Homo sapiens: one gene and its partners. The protein of the gene in region 1 interacts with the protein of each later gene in a pairwise test. Each region holds a gene or a part of one and is shown on either strand. Other genes may lie near its edges.

Region 1 (7,024 bases):
CTCCCCAGCCCCTCCCCATCTTCTTCCTCTCGCAACAGCCCCTCCTGTGCCCACTACTCCTTCAGGGGGAAGCAGGATCCAAGGTGGAGCACTCTGGAAGCCACCTAGCAAGCTGGGGCTTGGTCAGCCTGGTCCCAGCTCTATGGGGTCAGTTCGAGGCCAGGGCCTACTGTCCAGCCTCGGGGCTCTGGCCCACTGTGGGGGAGCCTTGCCCTCTGTCCTGCTTGGCCCGAGTCCTGGCTGTGACAGGAAGCCCAAGACTCACAGGCATGTGACTGGGCCAGGGGGGCCCTGGGGGGAACCAGGCGCCGTGTGCCTGGTCCCGACTGGCCAGTTCCTGATTGTCCTAGCGCGCGAGCAAGCAGATGCACGCATGCGCACACATGCACACACACACATGGAAATTTGCTGAGTGTCCCCCTGCCAGTGGTCACTTCTGTGGGGCCATGAGTCAGCAGCTGCTGCTGCTCCGTGAAGCCAGGCGGTTGGAGAAACATTGGGCTGGGCTGGTGCCAGGAATCTGGTGGCTGACGGTGGCCCAGGCTCCAATCCTGGGGGAAGCGGGCGCCCAGGCGACCCCAAACTCCAGGACCCTCTTACTCTCTGCCTCCTGAGAGGCTCGGCGGCATGGGACCCCTTGTACTTGCCTGATCCCTGAGTCAGCACCCCCACCTGCGCCTGCTATCCCTGTGTACACACGGGGAAACTGAGGCCCTGGGCCATTAAGGCAGGGTTGCTGGGCAGGCAGTGATTGTAAGGCTTACCTTCTCCCCTTGACCAGCTGAACCCCTCTGCCTGGAAGCCCTCCAAGCCTGGGGTTCACCCTGGAGGGCAGGGCAGGCACTGAGACACCCAGAATCAGACCTTGACATGGCCCCAACCTGGGGAGGAAGTCACTTCCTTTCTCAGACCTTGGACTGCGGGCCACCAGGGGAGTCTTCCAGGCCGGGCTTTCCTGCACCCGGGGCTCAGGCTGAGGGCCACGTCTGTCCCCACCCTGGCTTGACCTCTGGCCTTGTCTTTTCCGTGGGGAAGTCCTCAGCCTCACCATGTATTGAGCAGGGGTAGGTGACAGAAGCCAGGGGTCTAGAGACCCCAAGTACCCGTGGGCATTAGGACCGAGGGCTGGGGACCTGGCCCATCTTCCCTGCAGGCTGAGCAGGTGGGAGTGGGTGGCTGTTGGCAGCTGTGGGCCCCGTGATGCCCCTCCCTCCAGTATGGGCCTTGGCTCTGGGGACAGCCGGGCCTTCTGAGGCCCAGTGGGGAGATGGGGCCCCCTCTCCCATCCCTGACGGACCCTGTCCCCTGCCAGGCCCAGTACTACGGGGAGATTGGCATCGGGACGCCCCCCCAGTGCTTCACAGTCGTCTTCGACACGGGCTCCTCCAACCTGTGGGTCCCCTCCATCCACTGCAAACTGCTGGACATCGCTTGCTGTGAGTCACGAACCCTGGCCCCGTCGCCCAGGTCCTGCCCTTCCGGGATGTCGCTGCAGGGCTGCCTCAGGAATCACTTGGGCAACGCAATTCTCCTGCCTCTTGGCCCCGTGAGCCAGGCCAGCCCTCCACCCTGCTCCAGCCACTGACTTTCTGGGTGAACCACCAGCTGTGGTCTTGCTCTCAGCAGGGCTGGGGCTGGGGTGGCCACAGAGGGAGCCGGCTGTGGCTGGGAGGGAGGCCCGGGGTCACAGCCCACAGTCCCGGGGCTCTGGCATGATGGTGGGCCTCAGATCCCCTCCAAATCCCACCCTGGGGAGGCAGCTTGGGGGGTGCGGGCTCCATGGTAGATTGTAGGGGGATGGGAGGGCTAAGGCCGTGGCGTGGGCTGCGGGATGACCGGCGGGCCCCCTTGTCGCCCGGGGCAGGGATCCACCACAAGTACAACAGCGACAAGTCCAGCACCTACGTGAAGAATGGTACCTCGTTTGACATCCACTATGGCTCGGGCAGCCTCTCCGGGTACCTGAGCCAGGACACTGTGTCGGTGAGTCCCTCTGGGGCCTTTCCCAGGACTCGAGGGTGCCAGGGTGTGGGGTTCACCCACCGTGGGTATGTGGTTGAAAGGGAGGGCTCGGTGATCCCAGCCCAACCCCAGCCCTCAGGTGGCCGGGGCAGTCAGCAGGGTGAGGAGGGGTCTGGGAATGGGCCTGGTTGTGTGCAGGCTGGAGGGACAGCCTCAAACCCAGGGGGTACAGGGGCAGGGGTCCCCGGAGTCAGGCCACAATGAGTGGGAGGGAGGACAGGGCAGATCGATCGGGCTCTTTTTGGCACATTGGGTTTGAGGTGCCAGCAGGTGTTGAGGGCTGGACCTGGGGCTGCACAGGGTCCCTGCAGCAGGCCGAGGGCTTGGGGAGGCTTGGGGTTGGGAGGATGTACCAGGAACCCGCTGTGGGGGCTGCTGGCGGAGAGTCACCGGCAGGAGCCTGGGAGGGCAAGGGAGGGGGAGCAGCAGTGGCTGTTGGGGGCCCCGCCTGCATCCACCATCCTCAGGGCCCTGTGCAGAGCAACTCCCTGCCCTAGGAGAGGGTGAGCTGGCCCTTGTCACCCTGCCTGGGCCTCAGTGAGTTCTCACCTCGGAGCTGTCTGCTGGGGGTGGACCAGGCCACAAGGGGTTCAGGAGTTACGGGATGGTGACACAGCCCCCAGCTCTGGAGCGGGCCAGGAGGGCAGCAGAGCCCCCCTGCAGGCCCAGGGACCCGGGAAGAGGGCCCCTTCCTCCAGCTGAAGCTGCTCCTAACAGTTCCCTGCTGGGCTGGAGTCCAGTCTGTACTGGGGGCTCCTCAGAGCCCTCCTGTCTGGACCCTGCTCAGCCTGAACAGGAAATTGCCCCGTCTGCCCTCTTCCGCCCTCTTCTGCCCCCTCCGCCCCGTGTCAGCCTCAAGCTGTCGTTCCCTTCCCACATCCTGCTCTGGCCGTGTTCTCTCTCTGCAGCCTCATCCAGGGCTGGGGGAGGGGACAGGCAGAGAAGGGGAAGGGGGCAGTATGGCTGTGAGCTTGGGATGGGGTCGGCAGGTTCCCCATCTCTCGGGCTCCTGGCCCAGGCTGTGTCTTGTTCCCAGCGCTGAGGGCAGGAGCAGGACCTGCCTGTCATTGGTGGTGGGAGTAAGAGGTCGGAGCAGGGAGCGGAGCAAGGGGCCTGCCCGTCTGTGCTCCTGCCTGGTTCCCATCTCGTGTAAACCGAGCCCTGATGACTTCCACGAAGAGGGCCCCGCCATACCCCGTGTCCCCATCCCCAGCGGTGTTCAGCTCAGGGTTTCCAGCCCTTTCTTCTGGGCCCTCTGGGCCCCATCGTGTGTGGGATGGGCATCCATTGAACTGGGTTTTGTAGCCTCATGCTCAGGGAGTGGTGTAGGGCTCAGCCTGTCTGCTGCCCACTGACTCTGCCCTGGCCTGCAGGTGCCCTGCCAGTCAGCGTCGTCAGCCTCTGCCCTGGGCGGTGTCAAAGTGGAGAGGCAGGTCTTTGGGGAGGCCACCAAGCAGCCAGGCATCACCTTCATCGCAGCCAAGTTCGATGGCATCCTGGGCATGGCCTACCCCCGCATCTCCGTCAACAACGTGCTGCCCGTCTTCGACAACCTGATGCAGCAGAAGCTGGTGGACCAGAACATCTTCTCCTTCTACCTGAGCAGGTGGGCGTGTGGGTTCCCTCTCGCTCCGCGTTGCTGGGAGGCAGGGCGGGGCTGGACGGGGAGCCTTCTAGGCACCCCCTCTCAGTGCTGCCCCCTCCCTGCTGCTGTGCCAGAGCTCCTGACCTCTGACCTCAGGGCATCCGGGAGGCGGGGGTTGGCCGCCCTTCTGCAGAGGAGTAAGCGGCAGCACAGAGAAAGCTGTTTGGCCGGGGTCTCCCAGTGGGAGGGGCTCGGGCCAGGCTGTGGGTCCTGGGACCTTGGCAGCTGGGCCTCCCTCCTATGAGAATGGACCCAGGTCAGGGGTCGTGGCAGTTCCTCTTGGTTCAGTCGGCCCGTCGGTCCCCAGACCTGGTGATGGGCACATGTGGTCCTGGTCCCGGGGTTGCTGATGGTGGAGAGGGTCATGGTGCCCAGGGGACCGGGGATCCCCGGGGAGGTGACCTTGGGTGCGTATGGGTCCCCGGCACCACGCTGCGAGCAGCTCTGTGGGCGTCCCCAGCAGGTGCCGGCTGCCCTCGAGGAGGAACATAGGGGGCCCTTCCTTCTGGGAAAAGGGTTCTCCCCCAGGGCCCCCACCTGCAGCCGCTGCTCCAGCTTGGGTGACCCATGGTCAGGTGACCTTGGGAAGGGGACGTCGGACTCAGTTAGTTTCCTCTTCTCGGGGCAGACCTGAGTGGAGGGTTCCACATAAGAGGGGTGACTGGGGGTTGGGGGCTTTTGTTTTGGGGGTGGGCAGCGTGTCAGCCGGCGGCCTCCTGCCCTGAGCTGCGCCTGGTCACTGCCCCACACTCTCCAGGGCTGACAGGGGCAGGTTTACCTCACGTGGCTCACTTGGCACTTGGAGTCTCTGGGCCTGACCCCTAACCTTGGATCGCTTCCGGCAGAATTCCGGCTGTAGGGCTGGCTGGGCCTCTTTGCTCTGCCCCTTGCCTGGGCAGTGAATACTCCTTAGCAACACCCAGGGCTAAGCTGCTCACTAGAGGCCAGGACACAGGTGAACCGGCTGGGCCATTTCCCCAGGAGCCTTGGGGCACAGGGGAGGCAGCCAGGTGAAAAGGGGTCCCCTGAGGGCAAGAGGGCATGCAGGCATGAGTGCCCACATGGGGAGGGGGCACACAGCCTGAGTACCCAGGTCAGGGAGGGGGACACAGGCATGAATGCCCATGTGGGGGAGGGGCACACAGCATGAGTGCCCATGTGGGGGAGGGGCACACGGTATGAGTACCCAGGTCGGGGGAGGCATACACAGGCATGAGTGCCAGGTGGAAGGAGGGGCACACAGAGTGAGTGCCCAGGTGGGGGAGGTGCACATGGTTGTGAGTGCCCAGGTGTAGTCTCAAGGCAGCAGCTTGGGCAGGAAGTGGAGCCAGGCAGGAGGGAGGGTCTGAGGGCTTCTGAAAGCATGTTTGGTGAGGAGAGGAGGGGTGGGAGGCGCTGATCAGGTTTCTACACTTGGGATTGCAGAGGTGTTGACAAGAGGCAAAGGCGGAGGAGGCTGGAGGAGGGCGGAGGCCCCAATCGGTGTTGGGAGGACTGGGTCAGGCCTGGCACTGCCTCGAGTGACAGGCAGTGGGATGGTGGCCAGCTTAGCTGCAGACGCTCTGGCGGGATGGCAGAACCGCCCCAGACACAGAGAGCTTCTCTACCAGGACCGGCAGGATTTGCTGCGTTGAAAGCTGTACTTGAGCAATGTTTAGAAACAAACCCGGGCGACATGGGTTGCAGGTCCTAGGAAGTGCAGTGCGCTCCTGCCCAGGAGCACCTTGGCTGGCCATCAGTGGTCTGGATGAGGGGGAGATGAGCGGACGTGGCTCGGGGATGCAGGTGGAGGGTGTTCCCAGGAGCAGCCAGTGCAGAGGCCCTGCGGCCAGAACCAGCCATCCCAACTTCCCAGATTGTGCCATCACTCCCTCCTGGAAGCCTTCTTTGGTTTTTTCTTCCAGACAGACAGACAGGGTCCTCCCCAGTGGAGCTCCTGGCACTCACTTCCTTGTCTGCCGCTAGCCTTGACCCTGATGTCTGGCTGAACCTTGGCTCCTGAGCAGACCAGGAGAACCTGAGGGTTGAGGAAAACCTCTTCTGGGCCAGGCTGGGCCCACGCAGAGCAGCCCTACCCCGGGAAGAAGGGAGTCTGTCCCTCCTCCTGCCTTCTGGGCCTTTCCATCCCTGCAGTTTCAGAAAGGCCCCTCCTTCAGGAAGCTCTCCCTGATTGCCACATTCACCCTCTTACTCCTGACCTGGCACTCTTGTGCTTGGGGGGTGGCGTGGCAGCTGACTCCTCCCTTTTCCTCCTAGGGACCCAGATGCGCAGCCTGGGGGTGAGCTGATGCTGGGTGGCACAGACTCCAAGTATTACAAGGGTTCTCTGTCCTACCTGAATGTCACCCGCAAGGCCTACTGGCAGGTCCACCTGGACCAGTGAGTAGTGGCTGCAGTCGGCTCCCCTGGGTTCTGTGGGCGGGGGCGGTGTGCGGAGACCCTGGAGGACCCCGGTTCTGCAGGTGGGGGTTGCATGTGGGGAGTAGTGGGAGCTGGGCAAGAAAGAGATGGGGTCAGACCAGCCCTCCATGCCCCTCCTTGCCCCTCCATGCTCCCCATCACCTCCATCCCCTCTATTCCCTCTATCCCTCCATCCCTCCATTTCCTCCATGCCTCTGTGACTCTCCATGACCCACCATCCCTTCTGTCCATCCCTCCATGCCCTCCATCCCCTCCATCCCCTCATCCCTCTGTGACTCTTCATGACCCTCCATCTCCTCCATCCCTCCATCCCCTCCATCCCTCCATCCCTCCATCCCCTCCATCCCTCCATCCCTCCATCCCCACATCCCTCTGTGACTCTCCATGACCCTCCATCCCCTCCATCTGTCTATCCCTCCATCCCTCCATCCCTCCATGCCCCTCCATCCCTTCATCCCCTCCATCCCCTCCATCCCTCTATGCCCCTCCATCCCCTCCATCCCTCCATGCCCCTCACCACCACCTGAGGGTCTCCCACCCCCTCTACCACTCTGTGTCTCCTCTCCCACCCTCTTCCCTGGAGGGCTTACAGCCGGCTGTGCTTCCAGGAGCCCTGAGGGGAGGAGAGTGCAGCCCAGCCAGGGGAGGGGCTCCCAGGGAGGGGCACTGGGCCCCCAGGGCACACTCCAGTCCCGGCAGGGGCTTCACGCCCTGACTCCCCGCAGGGTGGAGGTGGCCAGCGGGCTGACCCTGTGCAAGGAGGGCTGTGAGGCCATTGTGGACACAGGCACTTCCCTCATGGTGGGCCCGGTGGATGAGGTGCGCGAGCTGCAGAAGGCCATCGGGGCCGTGCCGCTGATTCAGGGCGAGGTGAGCGCCGGGGGCTGGGGCTGGGGCTGGGGCTGGCAGGGGGAGCCCCAAGGCCACCACTACCAC
Region 2 (7,902 bases), on another chromosome or scaffold:
GGAGAGACCCAGAAAAGCGAAGACAAGAGGAAAAGGGAGAGGCAGAATGTTAGACCCTCGTGGGAACCTGGGAGCTTCCCTGGCTCCCACTTTCCCCTTCCCCTGTATTGCCTGAGCTGGAGACAGTGTGTGAGAGGGGCCGGGCGCGGTGGCTCACGCCTGTAATCCCAACACTTTGGGAGGCCAAGGGGGGCGGATCACGAGGTCAGGAGATCCAGACCATCCTGGCTAACACGGTGAAACCCCGTCTCTACTAAAAATACAAAAAATTATCCAGGCGTGGTGGCGGGCATCTGTAGTCCCAGCTAATCAGGAGGCTGAGGCAGGAGAATGACATGAACCCGGGAGGCAGAGCTTGCAGTGAGCTGAGATTGTGCCCCGGCACTCCAGCCTGGGCCACAGAGTGAGACTCCATCTCAAAAAAAAAAAAAGTGCATGAGAGGGCACAGACCAAAAGAGGGACTTCCCAGGCTGGGCACAGTGGCTCACACCTATAATCCCAGTACTTTCAGAGGCCAAGGCAGGCGGAGGATCACTGGAGGCCAGGAGTTCAAGACCAGCCTGGACAACATAGCGAGACCCCCCCCATCTCTACAAAAAATAAATTAGCTGGGCGCGATGGCTCACGCCTGTAATTCCAGCACTTTGGGAGGCTGAGGTGGATGGATCACCTGAAGTTGGGAGTTTGAGACCACCCTGGCCAACATGGTGAAACCCTGTCTCTACTTAAAAAATACATAATTAAGCTGGGCACGGTGGCCCATGCCTGTAATCCCAGCACTTTGGGAGGCTGAGGCGGACAGATCACGAGGTGAGGAGTTCAAGACCAGCCAGGCCAAAATGGTGAAACCGCATCTCTACTAAAAAATACAAAAATTAGCTGGGCATGGTGGCGGGCGCCTGTAATCCCGGCTACTTGGGAGGCTGAGGCAGGATAATTGCTTGAACCTGGGAGGGGGAGGTTGCAGTGAGCTGAGATCGCGCCATCACACTCCAGCCTGGGCAGCAAGAATGAAACTCCAACTCAAAAAAATAAATAAGCCGGGCTCAGTGGCTCACGCCTGTAATCCTAGCACTTTGGGAGGCCGAGGCAGGCAGGCAGATCACTTGAGGTCAGGAGTTTGAGACCAGCCTGGCCAACATGGTGAAACCCTGTCTCTACTAAAAATACAAAAATTAGCCAGGTGTGGTGGCACAGGCCTGTAATCCCAGCTACTCAGGAGGCTGAGGCAGGAGAATTGCTTGAACCTAGGAGACGGAGGCTGCAGTGAGCCAAGATCGTGCCACGGTACTCCAGCCTGGGTGACAGAGCAAGACTTCGTCTCAAAACAAAAAAACAAAACAAAAAAAGCTTTCCACGCTACCCACAGAGGGCTCCATCCGGCGTTGTTCTGGATTCCTGTTGTAACTTAAAGAGAAACTTTCACAACATCCGGAGCCCTTGATGTCCTGCAAATGAAGGAGGAAGATGTCCTTAATTTCCTTGCAGCAGGAAACCAATTAGGTGGCACCAACCTTGACTTACAGATGGAACAGTACATGTATAAAAGGAAAAGTGATGGCATCTACATCCCAAATCTGAAGAGGACCTGGGAGAAGCTTCTGCTGGCAGCTCGTGGCATTGTTGCCATTGAAAACCCCGCTGATGTCAGTGTCATACCCTCCAGAAATACTGGCCAGAGGGCCGTGCTGAAGTTTGCTGCTGCCACTGGAGCCACTCCAATCGCTGGCCGCTTCACTCCTGGAACCTTCACTAACCAGATCCAGGCAGCCTTCCGGGAGCCACGGCTTCTTGTGTTTACTGACCCCAGGGCTGATCAGCAGCCTCTCACAGAGGCATCTTATGTTAACCTACCTACCTTGCTCTGTGTCTCACAGATTCTCCTCTGCGCCATGTGGACATTGCCATCCCAAGCAACAACAAGGGAGCTCACTCAGTGGGTCTGATGTGGTGGATGCTGGCTCGGGAAGTTCTGCGCATGCGTGGCACCATTTCCTGTGAACACCCGTGGGAGGTCATGCCTGATCTCTACTTCTACAGAGATCATGAAGACATTGAAAAAGAAGAGCAGGCTGCTGCTGAAAAGGCTGTGACAAGGAGGAATTTCAGGGTGAATGGACTGCTCCGGCTCCTGAGTTCACTGCTACTCAACCTGAGGTTGCAGACTGGTCTGAAGGCGTGCAGGTGCCCTCTGTGCTATCTAGCAGTTCCCTACTGAAGACTGGAGCATTCAGCCTGCCACAGAAGACTGGTCTGCAGCTCCCACCACTCAGGCCACTGGATGGGTAGGAGCAACAACTGAATGGTCTTAAACACCTGTACTGTGAGCTCCCCCTGCCCCATCTTCCAGCCCAGGTGCACCTGGCAGCCTGGCTCTTGCATTCCTCGGCTGGGCTTGGATGCTGGCGGTCCTCTACCTGGTCTGGCTCTATTGGGATAGAAACATACCCAGGGCTGGAGCCCGCAGATCTGCCTGGGTTTGCAACTGGGCAGTTTGAGACATTTCTGTGACTACTTCCCCCTCTCAGTGAGGACCTGGGCTGTGGGGTGCTGGGTGCGGTTGGGGCTTCAGAATAGACTCTTGGGACCACCATCTCCCAAAGTGCAATCTCACCGTTGGGGTGGGGTGCGCCCGTCTGCTCCCCAGCTAGTTAAAACTGCAAAGTTGGGCACCTCCTGGAACTACCTCTTTGACTTCCACCCTCACAGGGTCCTGGTCGTGGGAGCCTTCGCCAACTTCTGCACAGAGCCCACGGGCTGCTCCTGCCTCTTCCCCAAACTCCCGCCACACCTGCTCATGCTGCCTTGTTGGTTCCATCTCCTCTTCTTCCAGGACTACATCATGTCAGGTGGTGAGAAGAGGAGGACCTTGCTGCTGTCTCCCGCCCCACCATCCTCTTCCCAGGGGACACTGGGGCCCAGCTCTCCTTTCCCCATGTCCTCTCCACTCTTCTTTCCAAGTCCCAGGCTTTGGCTGGGTGCGGTGGTTCACACCTGTAATCCCAGCACTTGGGAGGCGCAGGCGAGAGGATCGCTTAAGGCCAGGAGTTCAAGACCAGCCTGGGCAACACAGTGAAACCCCATCTCTACACAAGAAAAAACAAAAACAAAAATTTAGCCAGGTGTGGTGGTACACACCTGTGGTCCCAGCTACTGGGAGGCTTGAGGTGGGAGGGTCACTTGAGCCCTGAAGGTCAAGGATGCAGTGAACCAAGATCAGGCCACTGTACTCCAGCCTGGGCAACAGAGCAAGACTCCGTCCCTAAATAAATAAGTAAATAAGACCCAGGCGTTGGGTCCCCCAGCTTCTGCCCTCCCCCCAGGTTTGGTCTCCTTTGTCAAGGCCCCGCTGCCTCAGTGGTGGCCAGGTGGCTGTCCTGGCGTGGGAGGGCCCCTGCAGGCGCTGGAGGCAAAACCCGGACAACTGAGCTTGCCGATTCGGAATCAGAAGAGATTGGTTAAGTCAGCTCTGGAACTCGGGTGAGGACCCGAGCGTGACCCGGTGGGGACGCCCCAGGGCTGCCGGGCCGGGGAGGAGGAGAGTGGCGCCACCCGCGGACCCCGGGGCCAGGAGTCAGCCGCGCCATGCTCTCCTGCGGCCTCCCTAGTGCCTGTCTTCTCCAGGGAGAATGAGCTCTTCCAGCAGTTCCCGAACCCGCAGAGCTCGTGGGTGCAGAGGACGCAGGAGGCTCTGCGTCCGCTGCTAAGCGTGGCCCTGCAGCTGTTCCTGGGCCGCCGGGGCCTCCCGCTGCCCTTCCGCGCGCCCATCCGCACCGTAGGTGAGCCCCGGCCTCCGCCCCGCGATCCTGGCCCAGGGCCCGCTCCCTCCCCGTCCCGGGTTGGGGCCACCCAGACTGGCCTTTGGCCACCGCGCCAGCCCTGAACTCTGTTCCCGCCTATCCCCAAGGAGGAAAAGAGGAGGAGAACCGGGGATCCCAGCCCAGATCGCCTCCCGTCCCGCCCGCAGTGGGGTCGGCGATTCCCGTGCAGCAGAGCCCCCCGCCCAGTCCGGCCCAGGTGGACACGCTGCAAGCGCGCTACGTGGGGCGACTCACGCAGCTCTTCGAGGAGCACCAGGCGCGCTATGGTGTCCCCGCCGACAGACACCTGGTCCTCACGGAGGCGCGCCCCACCGCCTGGCCTCGCCTGTCCGCTGGGTGACTGCAGGTGGGGAAGTGAAATTAAAGACTGGCGGCAGGGCACGGTGGCTCACGCCTGTGATTCCAGCACTTTGGGAGGCCGAGGCGGGTGGATCACTTGAGGTCAGGAGTTCGAGACCAGCCTGGCCATCATGGTGAAACCCCATCTCTATTAAAAATCCAAAAAAAAAAAAAAAAAAAATTAGCCAGACGTGGTGGCGCGCCTGTAATCCTAGCTACTCGGGAGGCTGAGGCAGGAGAATCGTTTGAACCCGGGAGGCGGAGGTTGCAGTGAGCCGAGATCGTGCCACTGCTCTCCAGCCTGGGTGACCGAGACGTGTGAAAAAAAAAGAAAAAAAAGAAAAGAAAAGAAAAAGAAAAAAATTAAAGTGGGAAACAGACCTGCAGCCTGTGTGTGTTTGTGCATGGCGGGGGAGGTCCAGGCAGGGGTGGTGACCTTGACATTCCTGGAGATGCCCCGGACCAGGCCCTGCCCCCACCCCGACTGGAGGTCAAATAGTCTCAGCAGGGCTTCTGGCCCCTTCCAGCACCTGGGACCCAGTGGGTGGGGCTAGCCAGATCACTCTTGTCCACTCCAACATCAATTCCTGAGGCACTCGGGTGTCACCTCTCCCTTGCACACCCCTTACGCCTCCCAGCCCCACCCAGCAGCCAGCCCAGACTGGTGACTGACAGGAAGTTCAAAGATCAGGCTGAGAAAAAACCCAGAGACATCTGGGGCTCTGGATCCAAAGATCTCCCCACTCACACACCTACGGACACACGCTACTCTGGGAGGTGATTTGCGACTTAGCCAGGCCCCCAAAGCTGGGCTCCTGTAGGGAGAAAGTCTGCCCAGGTCCACATCCAAGCCTTCATCGTTTGTCCTCCGGGTTCTGGGATCCTGCTGGAAGAGGGGAGCTTCTGCAATGGGAGTTGCCACAACCCTGCAGCCCCCAACCACTTCCAAAACCTTGCAGAAGCAGCATCTAGAAGCAGTGGGCGCCTACCAATATGTGCTCACTTTCCTCTTCATGGGTGAGAGCTGGGGAGGCGTGGGTGCCTGGGGTCTGCCAGGGGAGTAGGGCTTGGAGGGAGAGTGGCTGGGCTGCTGGCTTGCATGCCTGAGGACAGTGACCAGGTGACTGGTCTGGGAGAGGGCCAGAGGAGAGAGCTGGTTGTTCTGAAGGGGAGGAAGGGAAGGGAGCAGCTGGAGGGAATGATGGAGTTTCAGAAGTGAACTCTTTTCTTTCTCTCCCTTCCCCCAGGCCCTTTCTTCTCCCTTCTTGTCTTTGTCCTCCTCTTCACGTCACTCTGGCCCTTCTCTGTTTTTTACTTGGTGTGGCTCTATGTGGACTGGGACACACCCAACCAAGGTGAGCTCCGGATGGGGGCCCAGGTAGCCAGAGATGGTGGGGACATGGGGGGTGAGGGGAGGTGACTCCGGGGGTTCGTCCACCAGTATCTCATTGTCCGCAGGTGGAAGGCGTTCGGAGTGGATAAGGAACCGGGCAATTTGGAGACAACTAAGGGATTATTATCCTGTCAAGGTGATGGGTCACCCTGCAGAAAAACTGCTTCCTACCTCTCCCCATCTCCCTCCCACACCTAGGAGCCCTTCCTTGTGCTGGGGCCTGAGCTCCCCGCTGCCTAAGCTCAGGCAGTGGGACAGGGAATGGATTTTTTTTTTTTTTTAGACTGAGTCTCCTGTCACCGAGGCTGGAGTGCAGTGGTGCAATCTCAGCTCATTGCAACCTCCGCCTCCTAGGTTCAAGCTATTCTCATGCCTCAGCCTCCCTAGTAGCTGGGATTATAGGTGCCCGCCACCATGCCTGGCTAATTTTTGTAGTTTAGTAGAGACAGGGTTTCAACATGTTGGCCAGGCTGGTCTCAAACTCCTGGCCTCAAGTGATCCAGCCACCTCGGCCTCCCAAAGTGCTGGGATTACAGCCTTGAGCCACCGCGCCCGGCCTGGGAGTGGATGATGTTCAAGAGCGGGGCCTTGGTGGGGCACCATGGCTCATGCCTGTAATCCAAGCACTTTGGGAGGCCGAGGTGGGAGGATTGCTTGAGCCCAGGAGTTGGAGGCTGTAGTGAGCCATGATTGCGCCACTGTACTCCAGCCTGAGCAACAGAGTGAGACCGTCTCTAAAAAAAAAAAAAAAAAAAGGCGGTTGTGGTGGCTCAAGCCTTTAATCCCAGCACTTTGGGAGGCTGAGGTGGGTGGATCACCTAAGGTCAGGAGTTCGAGACCAGCCTGACCAACATGGAGAAACCCCATCTCTACTAAAAATACCAAACAAATTAGCCGGACATGGTGGCACATGCCTGTAATCCCAGCTACTCTGGAGGCTGAGGCAGGAGAATTGCTTGAACCAGGGAGGCGGAGGTTGTGGTGAGCTGAGATGATGCCATTGCACTCCAGCCTAGGCAACAGGAGCAAAACTCTGCCTCAAAAAAAGAAAAGAAAAAAAGAGAGAGTGGGTGAGGTGGCTTACGCCTGTAATCCCAGCACTGTGGGAGGCCAAGGCAGGCAGATCACGAGGTCAGGAGTTCAAGACCAACCTGGCCAATATGGTGAAACTGCGTCTCTACTAAAAATACAAAAATTAGCTGGGCATAGTTTCGCATGCCTGTAATCCCAGCTACTCGGGAGGCTGAGGCAGGAGGATAGCTTGAACCGGGACCAAGAGGCGGAGGTTGCAGTGAGCCGAGATCGTGCCACTGCACTTCAGCCTGGGCTACAGAGCAAGACTCCATCTCAAAAAAAAAAAAAAAAAAAACCTGGGCCCTTAACCCTATCCTAAGAACCTTTAACTCGGAACTCTGCTGGGGTGGCCCTTGACCCTATCCTAAGAACCTTTAACTCGGAACTCTGTTGGGGTGGAGGGCCCCTCTTTTCAGCCGGTGTCTTGCCTTCCATCCTCCCTTCATCCTGCTCAACACCCCGAAGCTGGTGAAAACAGCAGAGCTGCCCCCGGATCGGAACTACGTGCTGGGCGCCCACCCTCATGGGATCATGTGTACAGGCTTCCTCTGTAATTTCTCCACCGAGAGCAATGGCTTCTCCCAGCTCTTCCCGGGGCTCCGGCCCTGGTTAGCCGTGCTGGCTGGCCTCTTCTACCTCCCGGTCTATCGCGACTACATCATGTCCTTTGGTGAGCCGAATGGGAGGAGGAGAACGGGAGGAGACTCCTGACCAGATGTTCCCCAGCCCCTCTGGGACCACCCCCCCCCATAATAAGTCCCCCACCCAGGACAGGGGCCAGCCTGAGCACTGCCCAGACTTGCAGTGAGCATTTGGGTAGGTTCCCCGCCTTGGAGATGGGGGTAGGGGGCTTGGAACTAAAGGCTGGGTGAGGGGCGGGGGTGCCGTGGAGGCAGATGGGAACTACTTTCCACCTCCTCCTGCCCACAGGACTCTGTCCGGTGAGCCGCCAGAGCCTGGACTTCATCCTGTCCCAGCCCCAGCTCGGGCAGGCCGTGGTCATCATGGTGGGGGGTGCGCACGAGGCCCTGTATTCAGTCCCCGGGGAGCACTGCCTTACGCTCCAGAAGCGCAAAGGCTTCGTGCGCCTGGCGCTGAGGCACGGGTGAGTGCGCGTGCAGGCCCTACCTGTCAGTTCTCTGCTGGTTTATGCCCTCTCTCAGTCCCCAGACATCTAGGTCCCTGCATGGGGGATCCGGGTGCCCAGAGACCAGCGCCCTGCCCTGCACCGAGGCCCACGTGGGCTCTCCAGGGCATGACTCGGTACCAAACAT
Region 3 (7,996 bases), on another chromosome or scaffold:
CTCTAAAACTGTTATGATATCTTTTTGTTAGCATTTTATTACCTGAGGGATTTGTAGTTAAGCCCCTTCTTTAAAAAAATCTTGATACTTGGATTTTGTGCCCTCTTTCTTTTTTTCTCTATTTTTCTAGAGATTCATTGAATTTATTAGTCTTTAAAAGAATGAACTTGTAGATTTATTTTCTCTTTTATATATTTGTTTTATCTTTCATTGACTTCTGCTTGATTTTTCTTCTTTCTTGCTGCTTACCTCGAGTTTCATTCATTTCACCTTTCCACCTCTACTATATGCATTTAAATATGACCTTAATTGTAATATTAAAGTTTTTATAAGTTGAATTTTCATTATCATTCAAATAACAGTATTTCCTAATTTTCATTTGTACTCACATTTTAGCTTGTGATTTATTTAGAAGTATATTGAGTACTTTTCAAACATATAAAGGTTTTAACATTATCTTTTTGTTACTGATTTCTAGCCTAATTGTGCCTTTTATCAGAAAATATACTCTGTATAGTTTCAGTCTTATTATATTTGTTATATTTGCTTTATATCTACCATTGGGTTAATTGAGGTTGTTCATATGATGTGAATTCTGCATTTGCTGAGTATAAGGAATATGAATTAGGTCAAGTTTATTGATTGCCTTGTTCAAGTGTACTATATTCACATTGAATTTTTGTTTGCTTGTTGTATCACAGAGAGGTTTGTTAAAATCTTCTACTATGATAATAAATTTGTCCATTTTCCCTTTCGTCATGTCATTGTTTTGCTTCACATATTTGAGACTAAAACTGCAACAAATTCAGAATTGTAATGTTTTAGAAAGATTGACACTTTTATTATGAAATTACCTCTCTTTGTTGCCAATAATGTTTCTTGCCTTAAAGTCTAATCTGGTAAGTGCTCAGTGCATTTACATATTATTATCATCAAATTTGGGGTTTTAAATTTGCTCTCTTACTCTTTGTTTTCTACTTATCTATTCATTCTATATGTCTTTTCTGTACTTTTTGGCATTTTTTTGGATAATATTTCTTCATTCCATTTTTTCCTGTTTTATCTTGCTAATTTTGTTGTTATTTTTTAGTCACTATTCCAAAGATGATGGTGAGCATTCTTGATTGATTAAAGTCTAATGTTAATTAGTACTTTTACCACCTTCAAGAAGATGCAAAGATTTTAGAACACTTGAATTCAATTTATATCTCTCCATGCTTTATCCCATTATTGTCAGGAATTTTGACTCTACCTATATTTCAAATCCTGTTAGGTGATTACTATTGTTATTGTAAATCTTTGATATGTACATAGGTTTACCCACACATTTGCTCTTTCTATTGCTCTTGGTTTCTTTGTGCAGTTCTGGCTCTCACCTGGGATTGCCTTTGCACTTTTGGAATCACTCCTTTTAGCATTTCCCTTAGTTCATGTTGGTGGGTTACAAATCATCATAGTTTCAGTTTGTCTGAAAATATTATTGTGTCATCAAGATGATGGATATTTTTATTGCATAAAGAACTCTAAATTAGCAGTTATTTTCTTTTACAATTTTGAAGATGTTGTTCCATTTCCTTTGGGTTCCATTGCTGTTGTTGAAAAGGCTGTCTTCAATCTTATTGTTGCACACTTAAAAGTTTTTGCCTCCGAACAGATTTTAAGTTTTGTTTTTGTTTTTTCTTTAGAGATGGAGGTCTCACTATGTTGCTTAGGCTGGTCTCAAACTCCTGGCTGAAAGCAATCCTATCATCTCAGCTTCTCGTGTAACATAATTTTAAAATTTCTTTCTTCATTTTTTTATTTCATATATTGGACCTTGGTAGAGTTTTTGTTGTTGTTTCTATTCTCTTTGGGATTCATAGTGCTTCTTGAGTCTATGTCTTTTTTTATTATGATTTTTTAAAAAATGTATTGCCCTTTAAAATATCGTTTCTTCCAAATTCTTCCTCTTGTTTCTTTCCAGAGCAACATTATAGGCATGTTAAAACTTTGCCCTATGTCTTTCATGACTTTTGTGTGATTTTATATAATTTTTATCTTTTTTTTGTTGCCATTATTCAATCTGGTATTTCTTTTTTTTCTTTTTCTTTTTTTTTTGAGACTGAGTTTTGCGCTTGTCACCCAGGCTGGAGTGCAATGGTGTGATCTTAGCTCATTGCAACCTCTACCTCCTGGGATCAAGCGATTCTCCTGCCTTGGCCTCCCTGGTAGCTGGGATTACAGGCACCCACCACTATGTCCAGCTAATTTTTGTATTTTTAGTAAAGACAGGGTTTCACCATGTTGGCCAGGCTGGTCTTGAACTCCTGACCTCAGGTGATCCACCTGCCTTGGCCTCCCAAAGTGCTGGGATTACAGGTGTGAGCCACCATGCCCAGCCCAATCTGCTACTTTCTACTGACCTATATTTCAATTCCATCATCCTCTGTGTCTAATCTTCTATTAGTCTTCATCAGTTAAGTAACTTTAGTTGTTTTATTTTTCAGTTTCAGAATTTCTATTTTATTAAAAAAATTCTCTAGTGTAAATTTTCTATATTTTGTGTACTCTCTTCAAACATTGATTACAGCTATTTTAAAACCAATCAATTCTGAATGCCCTTGTGCATTTGTTTCTATTTTCTGTTTATTTTCATGGTCTGTTTTTCTAGACTTATCTTCAGACATGGCTTTTAATAGTTATTGAAATTTGGACATTGTGTTTAAAAAGTTTGAGAGTCAATTCATTGATCTGGTTAGTGTTATCGTCCTCCAGAGAGTATTTACTTTTGCTTGATGTGTGTGAGGAGGTCGTTATGACGATGGCAAATCTCCTATCTATTCAGTGATTGTCTACCTAATTCAGCAATTTAGGTGATTTGAAATTGGGCTCCCACTTTGTGATGGTACAATATTTTTAGCACATGCTGTCTCCTAGGGTGTAGCCCTTCAGGGGTCCTAACTGAAAATTTGAGGTAATTATAAGGGCACCACCTCCTTGGTGGTCTCTGTTTGCTTCTTAAACTAGATTTCCTTAACTTCTGAGCATCTTAGCCACTGTATTTCACCTGTTTCTTCACCTCTCAGTGTCCAGTTTCAAATCAGCAGTGCCTTGAGTAAAAAGTACTCAGGAGTTGAAAATCAGATTCACTGATTTGTACTTCCTGTCTTCTGGGGATTTTATTTCTTCAAGGTGTCATTGCCTGGGCAGCTTTCTGAAGCCTTCAAACTTATAGGTTTTGCATTCTGTTCATTTTTGTAAGCTGCTCTCAGCAGGAGGGTTTGTCAGCAACAATCTTCTCTACAACTAATAAAGCTTGAAATATCTCTAGCATGAGTTATTTTGAAGCAGATAGCATTTTAACTCATATGGCAGAAAGAACGCACATCTGCTGAAATTGAAGAGTTTCCTGATGCAGAGGCCTTCTCTTCAAACTAAGAAACAAAGTTGGAAGCACTTAGAACATTATGTTTGGAGTAAGAAATGTGAATACTGATGAAAACAGAACTGCAAAAATTTCGCCTAAAATAATGAGTGTTTTAGCACTGTAAAGAATACCAGGAATCACCCCAAATTACCAAAGTTATCATTCTACTTAGGGACCTTAAAATAGAAAGAACCCAGGGCCAGTATCATTTTGATGCCTTTTAAAATTTCTTTTTGAAATAGTGAAATGTCACAATGGATTTTAAAAATAGGGGAATGTTGAAAATGTTGATATTTAATAAATTAGTACTTTTTAATTGACCAATTTCTATATAATATTAACATGCTGTCTACATCAGGAGTTCTCAACCCCTGGGCCACAGACCAGCAGTGGTTCGTGGCCTGTTAGGAACTGGGCTGTACAGAAGGAGCGGAGCAGTGCACGAGTGGGCCAGCAAAGTTTCGTCTATATTTACAGCTGCTCCCCATCACTTGCATTACTGCCTGAGCTCCACCTCCTGTTAGATCAGCAGCGGCATTAGATTCTCATGGGAGCATGAACCTTATTGTTGAATTGTCCATGCTAGGGATCTAGGTTGCAGTGTTCCTTATGAGAATCTAATGTCTGATGATCTATCATTGTCTTCCATCACCCCCAAATGGGACCATCTAGTTGCAGAAAAACAACCTCAGGGCTTCCACTGATTCTACATTATGATGAGTTGTATAATTATTTCATTATATATTATCATGTAATAACAATTGAAATAAAGTGCGCAATAAATGTAATGTGCTTGAATCATCCAGAAAACATCCCCACCCCTGTCTGTGGAAAAATTGTCTTCCATGAAACCTTTCCCTGGTGCCAAAAAAGGTTGGGGACCACCGATTTACATAATTAGAAAGTTTATAAAATCCTAATTTATAGAGTGGTCATCAAATGGTAGGAAAGTTCAAGCAGTTTGAGGAACTGATGTTTTTTTTTCTCAATACTTGCAGTGCATCTCTATGACTGTATGGGCAGCTTCTTCTGGAGATAATGTTGACAGTCTAAAAAGTTAAGCTGTGACGATTTACTCCCCTCCCCTGCCCCTATAGCACACTCTGATTTTAAATATTTTCTCTCTTAATTCTAATTAAATGACATAATTATAGTGCCATATCCCAGTCAATGCCATTTATCAGTGACAGCTAATTAACACAATTATAAAAGTGGGAGCCCTAAGTTACCAGTGAGGTATAGAGCAACTCTGGAAATTTTCTCCTTACTGAAAGGAAATATTACACATATTCCTTCACCAGAAGAACAATACACAGTTTACCTTCCCTTTTTGTTTTTGATAATACCACTTTGTTCCCCATTCTCTACAAAATTTAGTTTGAAGAACATTTTAAAAACTTGATTCATCGTAGTCATCAATCCTTCATAAATATTTCTTGACAATTGGCCTCTCTGTAGTTTGCAACCTGGACTACTCATGTTTAAGAGCTTGGTTTTTCAAGACTATTGTGTTTCAAATGGTTTTGAGGTTTTATGGTCTGTTGACATTCTGAGGAACTTAGAACACATTCACTTCCTTTTGCTTGGTGAGCTGTCCAGAGCCTTTGCAAATGCATGCAGAGCATGGAAATGACCCAGCTGCCCTGCTGTTGAAACAGAATCCTATTTGGAAGGCAGACATGTGGCCCATCTCTGTAGCCATCACTGAGAAATCTGGATTTTCAAGGTAAGTGCAGATGACTTAGGTTTGGGGAGACATGAATGAAAGTGCTATAGAAATAAAGCACACTTAATTTGTTGGCATAGTCCTAATTCAGAATCTTCAAATGGTTCTGCTCTAAAAAGCAAGCTTATTCTCTGACCACAACTCCTCCTTTATAGAAAGAATTGTTCTATTCTTACTGCTTAGGATATGCTGCTCTGAAAGTAAAACCTAATATTTATGGGTAAATGTGAACAAAAATGATTTCAGAATCTCTCTGTCAAAAAACCAGCTAAACATATCATAGAATTTTTTAGAGCAGTTGGCACTATTGAATTTGTGTATAATTATTCAAATGCTTATCTTTTAAGTGATGTCTTAATTTCCTTTTGTTATGAAAATCCTTTAACTCTATTACTGCATTATTTTCAGATAGAGTTTGAAACTATTCAGGCAGCCCTAGTCAATAGAAGGAAACAATCTGTAAGCAATCAAGTACTTAGAAATTTCTAAAAGAAGTATATTCAAAATAACATGTGAAATAATGGTAATTATAATTCTTTCCATCCCACTTTTAAAGTACTACTTAACAGGAAGGATCTGAAAATAACTTCTTAAATAAGATAAATAAAAAGAACAACATCTGTTCAAATAATTTTACTTTAAGTAAAATACTTTCTATACCAGTATTTTCTACTTCCAAGAAGTAATATTTTTCAAATATGTGGAATGAAATATAATGCAAAGTTTTTAAACAATAAGTCAGTAATGCCTAACCTGAATATAGGCATTTAATTTTGTTTCTTTTACAAATTTGTTATATGACTTTTGATAGGTCACTTAATTCTCTGGACTTCAGCGTTCTACATAACTGCACAATTACTTATCTGAGAAATTACTTATTAAGTACTCCAGAATTACATGTCTTTGTTTTCTGTTTTATTGGGTTTAAATCAGTTAATTAGGATTTTAATCAGTCAATAGAAGTAATGGGAAGACCAATGGATGAGGAATCAGGTGGTGTGAATTCTAGTCCTCTGTTTTCTAGTAATTGGCTGCATAATTTGGGGGAATATTGTCTAAGGATTCCAGACCAGGGGTTGGCAAACTTTTTCTACAAAAGCCTTGATAGTAAATATTTTAGGCTTTGCAAGCCAAGAGGTAGAACTGAGGCTAATATATTGGTACTTACATAACCATTTAAAACTATAAAAACCATTCGTAGCTCACAGGCTGTATAAAAACAAGAAGTGAGCCAGCTTTGGCTTAGGTGACACAATTTTCCAACTATTCTTCTAGCAATGATTTTCAACAATTATAAAATGGAAGTTGTAGACTGGATAAGAGATGCTCAGCTAAGGGAGTTCCTGGATGGTCTTTAGATTGATACACCAATCCTCTGAAATTGCATGCAAAAATGTAAGTGTGTGTTTTTCTTTTCTTCCTTTTGTGCGTGTGTGTGTTTCTCTCCCTCCCTCCTTCCTTCCTGCCTGCCTGCCTGCCTGCCTGCCTGCCTTCCTGCCTTCTTCCCTCCCTCCCTCCCTCCATCTCTCTCTCTCTTTCTCTCTTTCTTTCTTCAGGGCCTTTCTCTCTGTTGCCCAGGCTGGAGTTTAGCGACTCAATCATGGCTCACTGACTGCAGCATCGACCTCCGGGGCTCAAGTGATCCTTTCATCTCAGCCTCCTCAGTAGCTGAGACTACAGGTACTTGCCACCACACCTGGCTAATTAATTAATTTTTTTTTTTAAATAGAGACAGGGTCTTGCTCATGTTGCCCAGGTTAGTCTCAAACTCCTGGGCACAAGTGATCCTCCTGCCTTGGCTTTTCAGAGTACTGGGATAACAAACATGAGCCACTGTGCCTGGCAGCACTTTTTTTTTTTTTTTTTTTTTTTTAAATAAGAAAAACACGGATTGATTTTCAAAGTGGTCCAAAATCCAATTGTAGTTAAGGACCACAGGTCTAGCTAATTTCTAAAAGTGCTTTCCAAATTTAAAATCAATGAGCCTGTGAAATGTTTACTGGTGTCTACTATGGGTAAGCCATTGTGCTAGCACTATAAGAGACGTAGCATGTTGTGACTAAAATAATGTGTTAAATATATTGTTAAATAATATGTTAAAAAATATATTTTTGGGACAGGGCCTCGCTCTGTCTCCAAGGCAGGAGTGCAGTGGCACAATCACAGCTCACTGAAGCCTTCACCTCCTGGAATCAAGTGGTCCTCTCACTTCAGCCTTCCGAATAGCTGGGAGTGCAGGTGTGAGCCACCCTGCCTGCCTTTTTTTTTTTTTTTTTTCTTTAGAGAGGGGGTCTCACTATGTTGCCAAGGCTGGTCTCAAATCCCTGGGCTCAAGCAGTCTTCCTGACTCAGACTCAGACTAAAAATATTTTAAAGAAGTTAGAATATGTGCAAGTCTGTGCTGTCTTTCAAAGTAATAACATTGAAAACAATTTTCAATTGATCAAAGATTTCTGAGACATTGCTTTGCAAAGTGTTTTCAAAGCTAGTTCATACGTTATACCAAAGTATTTTCCAAATTATGTTATTGTCCCATCTTATTTTGAATGACAATGTTATTATTCGTGACAGTCATAATCAAACTTAATCTAAGCATAGTCTGTTTCCTAAAAACATAATTTCCTTAAGGGCAGGAACTATGCCTTTGCTACCTTTATATTTTAGAACAGGGTTTGACCCATAATAAGTACCCAGCATCTTTGGAATGGTTATATGAGTGAATAAGTGAATGAAATGATGAAGGTATTATCATGGAGATTACGTACCATAGATAGTGAAGGCTTGGAACTCCAGATGGTCTAAAAGCAGTAGTTGCTAAGTCCAAAGATGGCTTCTCTTTTCAAAATTGGATGTAACTGTGATTT
Region 4 (6,885 bases), on another chromosome or scaffold:
TCTCTACCCCTCGTACATCCAGGAACACTGAGTTTCAAAGAAGGATAGGGGAATATCAGGGAAAGCGCTCAGCAGGCCTGTTTCACCTGCCCGAATCCTGTTTCCTGTTACCCATCCATTTCTCCCTTCAGCCTCCTGTAGTCTCTTTTTTCTGACTCCGACCACTGGTCACTCACCCGGCTCTCTTCCAGCTCTCTTGCTCCATCTAGTGGTAAAAGCTGAACGCGGGCGCCCTAAACCTAGCCTGCCTCCGACTTAATGCGCTCCCGGAAGCCTGTCTCACTTAATCCTGGCTGTCAGCCTGCAGGTCCTGGCTCTGGCATCCGAGAGAGACTGGAGCACCCAGTGTTACACGTGAGCTGGAATGACGCCCGTGCCTACTGTGCTTGGCGGGGAAAACGACTGCCCACGGAGGAAGAGTGGGAGTTTGCCGCCCGAGGGGGCTTGAAGGGTATCCAGATGATAAGGCGATTTTCCTTTATTCTTCTCCCCATCCTGCCCAGCATGAGGGGCTTTAAAGGGTGGAAAGGGGCTGGGCGCAGTGGCTTATGCCTGTAATCCCAACACTTTGGGAGGCTGGGGCAGGAGGATCGCTTGAGGCCAGGAGTAAAAGACTAGCCTGGGCAATATAGGGAGACCCTGTCTCTCCGAAAAATACAAAAATGAGCTGGGCCTGGTGGCATGTGCCTGTAGTCCCAGCTACTCAGGAGGCTGAGGTGGGAAGATCCTTTGAGCCTAGGAGTTCAAAGCTGCGGCGAGCTATGATCGCACCACTGCTGTCTGGCCTGAGTGACAGAACAAGACCCTGTCTCAAAAGAAAAAGCGGGGGGATGGGGCAGGAAGGGTCTGTGTTCCCTAGAGCAGTGCTTCTTAAGCTATCTGTGGTGGAGGACCAGTGTTTTTTTTTTTTTTTAATTTCTAGTCCATCTCAGACTGATATAAAATACCATAAAAATTAATAACTGGAAAATTGAAAGAACAGACATAAAATATTTTATTGGAAATTCCACAGACATGTTACATTTCAATAAATATAACTAGAGCAACATAGCATAAGGAAAAAGAATTACCAAGACTACACACTTCTGCCTCTGGGGTACAGAGATTAATGTTAAGAGTCACTGTTTGCGGCCGGGCGCAGTGGCTCACGCCTGTAATCAAAGCACTTTGGGAGGCCGAGGTGGGTGGATCACGAGGTCAGGAGGTTGAGACCATCCTGGCTAACACAGTGAAACCCCGTCTCTACTAAAAATACAAAAAAAAATTAGCTGGGCTTGGTGGCGGGCGCCTGTAGTCCCAGCTACTTGGGAGGCTGAGGCAGGGGAATGGCGTGAACCTGGCAGGTGGAGGTTGCAGTGAGCCGAGATCACGCCACTGCACTCCAGCCTGGGCGACAGAGTAAGACTCCGTCTCAAAAAAAAAAAAAAAGAATCACTGTTTGCTCCTAACTCGGTCATTTGTCATTCTGCAATCCTAATTACACAAAAAGTTAGGACAGCAAAAAGCAACTCCGCACATTAAACCCCTCTACACAATCTTTCAGTGAACACCAGGTACATCAGTGATCAAAGTTTTTTGTTTTTTGTTTTTTGTTTTGAGACAGTCTAGCTCTGTCGCCCAAGGCTGGAGTACAGTGGCACGATCTCAGCTCCCTGCAACCTCCGCCTCCCGGGTTCAAGGGATTCTCCTGCCTCAGCCTCCCTAGTACCTGGGATTACAGGCACCTGCCACCATGCCCGGCTATTTTTTTTTTTTTTTTGAGACAGAGTGTCGCTGTGTCGCCCAGGCTGGAGTATGGTGGCGCGATCGCGGCTCACTGCAAGCTCCGCCTCCCGGGTTCACGCCATTCTCCTGCCTCAGCCTCCCAAGTAGCTGGGACTACAGGCGCCCGCCACCTCGCCCGGCTAATTTTTTGTATTTTTAGTAGAGACGGGGTTTCACCGTGTTAGCCAGGATGATCTCGATCTCCTGACCTCCTGATCCGTCTGCCTTGGCCTCCCAAAGTGCTGGGATTACAGGCGTGAGCCACCATGCCCTGCATAATTTTTGTATTTTTAGTAGAGACAGGATTTCACTGTGTTGGCCAGGCTGGTCTCGAACTCCTGACCTCGTGATCCATCTGCCTCGGTCTCCCAAAGTGCTGGGATTACAAGTGTGAGCCACCGCGACCAGCCAGTGATCGAAGTTTTTAATATGACCTGTGAGGTTGCCTCTGGCTCATTCATTTATGCAATCTAAGTCCAATTTCAAGTTTCTCGATTTCTGTACTTTTCTCAACATGAACTGATAACAGATGCTTTATAAACTGGCTCAGGTCCCAGAACCATGCTTAGGATTACATTGCCCTGGAGCACATGAGGAGGCCAGGGCCCTCTAATGCAGTTCAGCGAGTGGAGAGGATGGGCATGGCAAATAAAAGCAGGTCATTCACTCTTTTTTCTCATCACCCTCTAACTTCCTTTTGATTCCCTCACTCTTTCTGTGTTCTTTTTTCCTTCCCTAATTCTTCACCTCCCCCTCCTCTGCTGCCTCCTTGCTCTCCTCGCAGGTCAAGTTTACCCATGGGGGAACTGGTTCCAGCCAAACCGCACCAACCTGTGGCAGGTAAGACCTACGTTCCTCCTTTCACCAAGCATTGACAGAGACCTGCTGGAGGCTGGGCACTGTGTTGTTAGGCCGCGGCATCCAGAAGGCTTGGGTTCTAATGCAACTGATGACTCATAAGCTGGTAAAGCAAAAGACAATGGGTCATAAGTGCTTTCTTTTTTTTTTTTTTTTTGAGACAGAGTCTCTCTCTGTTGCCCACGCTGGAGTGCAGTGGTGCGATCTTGGCTCACTGCAACCTCCGCCTCCCAGGTTCAAGCGATTCTCCTGCCCCAGTCTCCCAAGTAGTTGGGATTACAGGTGCCTGCCACCATGCCCAGCTAATTTTTTTGTATTTTTAGTAGAGATGGGGTTTTGCCATGTTGGCCAGGCTGGTCTCAAACTCCTGACCTCAGGTGATCCACCCGCCTTGGCCTCCTAAAGTGCTGGGATTACAGGCATGAGCCACCGTGCCCAGCCAGCGTAAGTACTTTCTATTAAAGAGTTGTAGGGCTGGGTGCAGTGGCTCACGCCTGTAATCCCAGCACTTTGGGAGGCCGAGGCGGGTGGATCACCTGAGGTCAGGAGTTCAAGACCAGCCTGGCCAATATGGTGAAACCCTGCTTCTACAAAAAATAAAAGATGAGCTGGGCATGGTGGCATGCACCTGTAATCCCAGCTGCTTGGGGCTTGGGCAGGAGAATCACTTGAACCCAGGAGGCGGAGGTTGCAGTGAGCTACCACTGTACTCTAGCCTTGGCGACAGAACGAGACCCTGCCTCAAAAAAAAAAAAGTGAATAAAAAATAAAACTAAAATAAGCAAATAAAAAAGCACTGTCCTGAGAAGGCCAGCAGGAATAGGCTGCAGTGCTCAGGCATGAGACATGGGGGCAGGATGCAGAGGATCCTGTCTTCTTGAGGCACTGTGGCATGTGGGGTTCCAGGCAGAGGGCAGGATGTTGCTGAGAGTGGAGAAGTCAGGTGTGGGCTGGGCTTGACCTGGAGCCCTGTGGGTACAGGGGAAACACTCTTCCTAATCCAGCAGTGGGGGTCACCCTGGGGATGTAAGGTGATGGGTTTGGGAGCTCTAGATAGGAATCTTAGGTCACCGCCCCGTGCCCTTCCCCTTCCCCAGATGCAACAGCAAGACGACCTTGGTTTTCCTCTGGATAGGCATGAGGACCTGCTTTGGGACAGGTGGTAAATCCTTTACCCTTCCTTTCTCCCATCAGGGAAAGTTCCCCAAGGGAGACAAAGCTGAGGATGGCTTCCATGGAGTCTCCCCAGTGAATGCTTTCCCCGCCCAGAACAACTACGGTAAGAGCTGTCTTGGGCTTGCGGCTGTGCCCATGAACTGGCTGTTGGGACCATCATGTCTGAGAGAGGAGGCAGAGGGAAGCACCTCCCTTCTGCCATTTGGCCCCCAGGACCTCAGAGGGTAGGCGGGGTGGTCGGCGGGTCCCAGCCTGGCCTGACCCGCCGGTGGGGCTGCAGGGCTCTATGACCTCCTGGGGAACGTGTGGGAGTGGACAGCATCACCGTACCAGGCTGCTGAGCAGGACATGCGCGTCCTCCGGGGGGCATCCTGGATCGACACAGCTGATGGCTCTGCCAATCACCGGGCCCGGGTCACCACCAGGTAAGGGGCTTGGTCCCAGGCAACACGGGGCCTTGTAGCTGGGGGCTGATGTCTGAATCCCGGTCCCAGAGTGTCCCTACCTTCACACCACCAACCGTCTGTGTGTGATGAGCTGGTCCCAGCACCTCCCTGAGCCTGTGCCCAGTTGTGGGTACAAAAAAGAAAGCCAGCAGCACTTGCTATGAAAAGCAAAGGGACCCAGGACACCTTGTGACTCTCCTGCCAGCTCTTGGTACCCAGGGAGACTGTGTGTGGCATCTTAATTATGGGGTTTCTCCTCTTGTCCTTACCACTAGGTGGGCAAAGGGAGGGAAGTAGAATGACCACACCAGTAGGTCATTACTGGTGGTCATGGACTTACTGACTCTTCAAACTGGTGGGCACACGAAAAATCTTTTTTTTTTTTGAGACAGAGTCTTGCTCTGTTGTCCAGGCTGGAGTGCAGTGGCACAGTCTCAGCTCACTACAGCCTCAAACTGCCAGGCTCTAGCGATTCTTCCACCTCAGCTCCTCAAGTATCTGGGACTACAGGTGCGGCTAATTTTTGTAGAGATGAGTTTTTGCCATGCTGCCTAGGTTTGTCTCATACTCCTGGACTCAAGCAATCAGCCCGCCTTGGCCTCCCAGAATGCTAGGATTACAGGTGTGAGCCACTGCACCCGGCCGTGATATTCTCATTGCTTGTGGACAGGTTTTCTCTACTGAGCTGTTGTCAACTGCTAACATAGAAGTTAGTCACTGTCTTTTCTGCTCTTCAGTGCTGTCTCTTGGGGCCACTGTCCCTCCCCCTACTCTTGCAAGACTCCTTTTGTCCCAAAGCCCCTTCTTGTCCCCTTTCTCCCAGGACTGGCACAGGCTCAGGACCTGTCCTCACACCAGGCTTCTTTCCAGACCATGCTCTCCCCAGCCCTCATGCTCCCTGATCATGGCCGGCCCTGCGGATGAGGCAGGCAAGATGGGTAAGCCCTAGGCCTTTTTCTCAGGACGTGTCTGTCCTCTCTCCCCTTCTCTGCTGGCAGGATGGGCAACACTCCAGATTCAGCCTCAGACAACCTCGGTTTCCGCTGTGCTGCAGACGCAGGCCGGCCGCCAGGGGAGCTGTAAGCAGCCGGGTGGTGACAAGGAGAAAAGCCTTCTAGGGTCACTGTCATTCCCTGGCCATGTTGCAAACAGCGCAATTCCAAGCTCGAGAGCTTCAGCCTCAGGAAAGAACTTCCCCTTCCCTGTCTCCCATCCCTCTGTGGCAGGCGCCTCTCACCAGGGCAGGAGAGGACTCAGCCTCCTGTGTTTTGGAGAAGGGGCCCAATGTGTGTTGACGATGGCTGGGGGCCAGGTGTTTCTGTTAGAGGCCAAGTATTATTGACACAGGATTGCAAACACACAAACAATTGGAACAGAGCACTCTGAAAGGCCATTTTTTAAGCATTTTAAAATCTATTCTCTCCCCCTTTCTCCCTGGATGATTCAGGAAGCTGACATTGTTTCCTCAAGGCAGAATTTTCCTGGTTCTGTTTTCTCAGCCAGTTGCTGTGGAAGGAGAATGCTTTCTTTGTGGCCTCATCTGTGGTTTCGTGTCCCTCTGAAGGAAACTAGTTTCCACTGTGTAACAGGCAGACATGTAACTATTTAAAGCACAGTTCAGTCCTAAAAGGGTCTGGGAGAACCAGATGATGTACTAGGTGAAGCATTGCATTGTGGGAATCACAAAGCAAATAGTACTCCAGAAAGACAAATATCAGAAGCTTCCTATTCTTTTTTTTTTTTTTTTTTTTTTTGAGACAGGGTCTTTCTCTGTTGCCCAGGCTAGAGTGCACTGGTGATCACGGCTCACTCTAGCCTTGAATTCCTGGGCCCAAGCAATTCTCCCACCTCAGCCTCCTGAGTAGCTGGGACTACAAGTGTGCACCACCATGCCTGGCTAATTTTTTGAATTTTTGTAGTGATGGGATCTCGCTCTGTTGCCCAGGGTGGTCTCGAACTCCTGGCCTCAAGCGATCCTCCCACCTCGACCTCCCAAAGTGCTGGGATTACAGGTGTGAGCCACCTCGCCTGGGCCCCCTTCTCCATATGCCTCCAAAAACATGTCCCTGGAGAGTAGCCTGCTCCCACACTGTCACTGGATGTCATGGGGCCAATAAAATCTCCTGCAATTGTGTATCTCAGACATTTGTGTCTTTGATCCTCACCCTGTGACCCTAAGGGAAGAAAGCCTGAGTGTCAGTAACTCTGGGCCTCCCCTAAAGAGAAATGGAGATGGTGGCTCATCTAGGAAGTAGAGGAGCAGGGGGTTCCTGGTTCTCAGGCCACGTGTGATCTCTGCCCACCCAGGGCCTGCCCCAGCCTGCAGGTATTGCTGTGTGGTGGGAACACCCACTTCCCTTGTGCACAGCCTTTGAGAGGGGATCGTGGCCTCAGTTCCAGGGGTTCCTGGCCAGGGCCAAGTGCTCCTTCTGCAGAGGCCTGCACGCATCTCACCCCTTTGACTTGTATTTCCATGGCTTCCCCTCCCCACCTGCCCCCTAGCCCTCCCTGACTGGCCAGCCCCTCAGTAGTCCTCCTCGGCCAGGGAGAGGAGCACGGCCTTGGGTGTGTTCTCGAAAAGGGCTGCCCGGTTCTGCTGCTGCCCCTTCTTCACCCAGTGGCCATAGATTCGGAAAGCGTA

The links.
Region 2: the proteins of CTSD (region 1) and MOGAT3 interact in binary tests that used the Homo sapiens proteins (3 or more experiments, as listed by UniProt).
Region 3: the proteins of CTSD (region 1) and GPR141 interact in binary tests that used the Homo sapiens proteins (3 or more experiments, as listed by UniProt).
Region 4: the proteins of CTSD (region 1) and SUMF2 interact in binary tests that used the Homo sapiens proteins (3 or more experiments, as listed by UniProt).

What each region holds. Positions count from the first base shown.
Region 1 is NC_000011.10:1,753,928-1,760,951, reverse strand, and holds part of CTSD (cathepsin D preproprotein), read left to right. Parts: exon of another isoform or gene 1-604; intron 605-1,312; coding exon 1,313-1,436; intron 1,437-1,864; coding exon 1,865-1,983; intron 1,984-3,395; coding exon 3,396-3,628; intron 3,629-5,923; coding exon 5,924-6,046; intron 6,047-6,813; coding exon 6,814-6,958; intron 6,959-7,024. UniProt on the Homo sapiens protein: Acid protease active in intracellular protein breakdown. Plays a role in APP processing following cleavage and activation by ADAM30 which leads to APP degradation.
Region 2 is NC_000007.14:101,198,022-101,205,923, reverse strand, and holds the start of MOGAT3 (2-acylglycerol O-acyltransferase 3), read left to right. Parts: upstream 1-4,887; 5' UTR 4,888-5,069; coding exon 5,070-5,178; intron 5,179-5,408; coding exon 5,409-5,516; intron 5,517-5,619; coding exon 5,620-5,690; intron 5,691-7,093; coding exon 7,094-7,298; intron 7,299-7,558; coding exon 7,559-7,733; intron 7,734-7,902. UniProt on the Homo sapiens protein: Catalyzes the formation of diacylglycerol from 2-monoacylglycerol and fatty acyl-CoA. Also able to catalyze the terminal step in triacylglycerol synthesis by using diacylglycerol and fatty acyl-CoA as substrates.
Region 3 is NC_000007.14:37,678,772-37,686,767, forward strand, and holds the start of GPR141 (probable G-protein coupled receptor 141), read left to right. Parts: upstream 1-4,994; 5' UTR 4,995-5,132; intron 5,133-6,407; exon of another isoform or gene 6,408-6,479; coding exon of another isoform or gene 6,480-6,527; intron 6,528-6,688; coding exon of another isoform or gene 6,689-6,812; intron 6,813-7,996. UniProt on the Homo sapiens protein: Orphan receptor.
Region 4 is NC_000007.14:56,074,286-56,081,170, forward strand, and holds the end of SUMF2 (inactive C-alpha-formylglycine-generating enzyme 2 isoform b precursor), read left to right. Parts: intron 1-300; coding exon 301-451; intron 452-2,548; coding exon 2,549-2,604; intron 2,605-3,816; coding exon 3,817-3,901; intron 3,902-4,078; coding exon 4,079-4,223; intron 4,224-4,636; coding exon of another isoform or gene 4,637-4,754; intron 4,755-5,067; coding exon of another isoform or gene 5,068-5,146; exon of another isoform or gene 5,147-5,242; coding exon 5,243-5,327; coding exon of another isoform or gene 5,328-5,586; 3' UTR 5,587-6,385; downstream 6,386-6,885. Other genes in the region: PHKG1 (phosphorylase b kinase gamma catalytic chain, skeletal muscle/heart isoform), read right to left, coding at 6,769-6,885. UniProt on the Homo sapiens protein: Lacks formylglycine generating activity and is unable to convert newly synthesized inactive sulfatases to their active form. Inhibits the activation of sulfatases by SUMF1.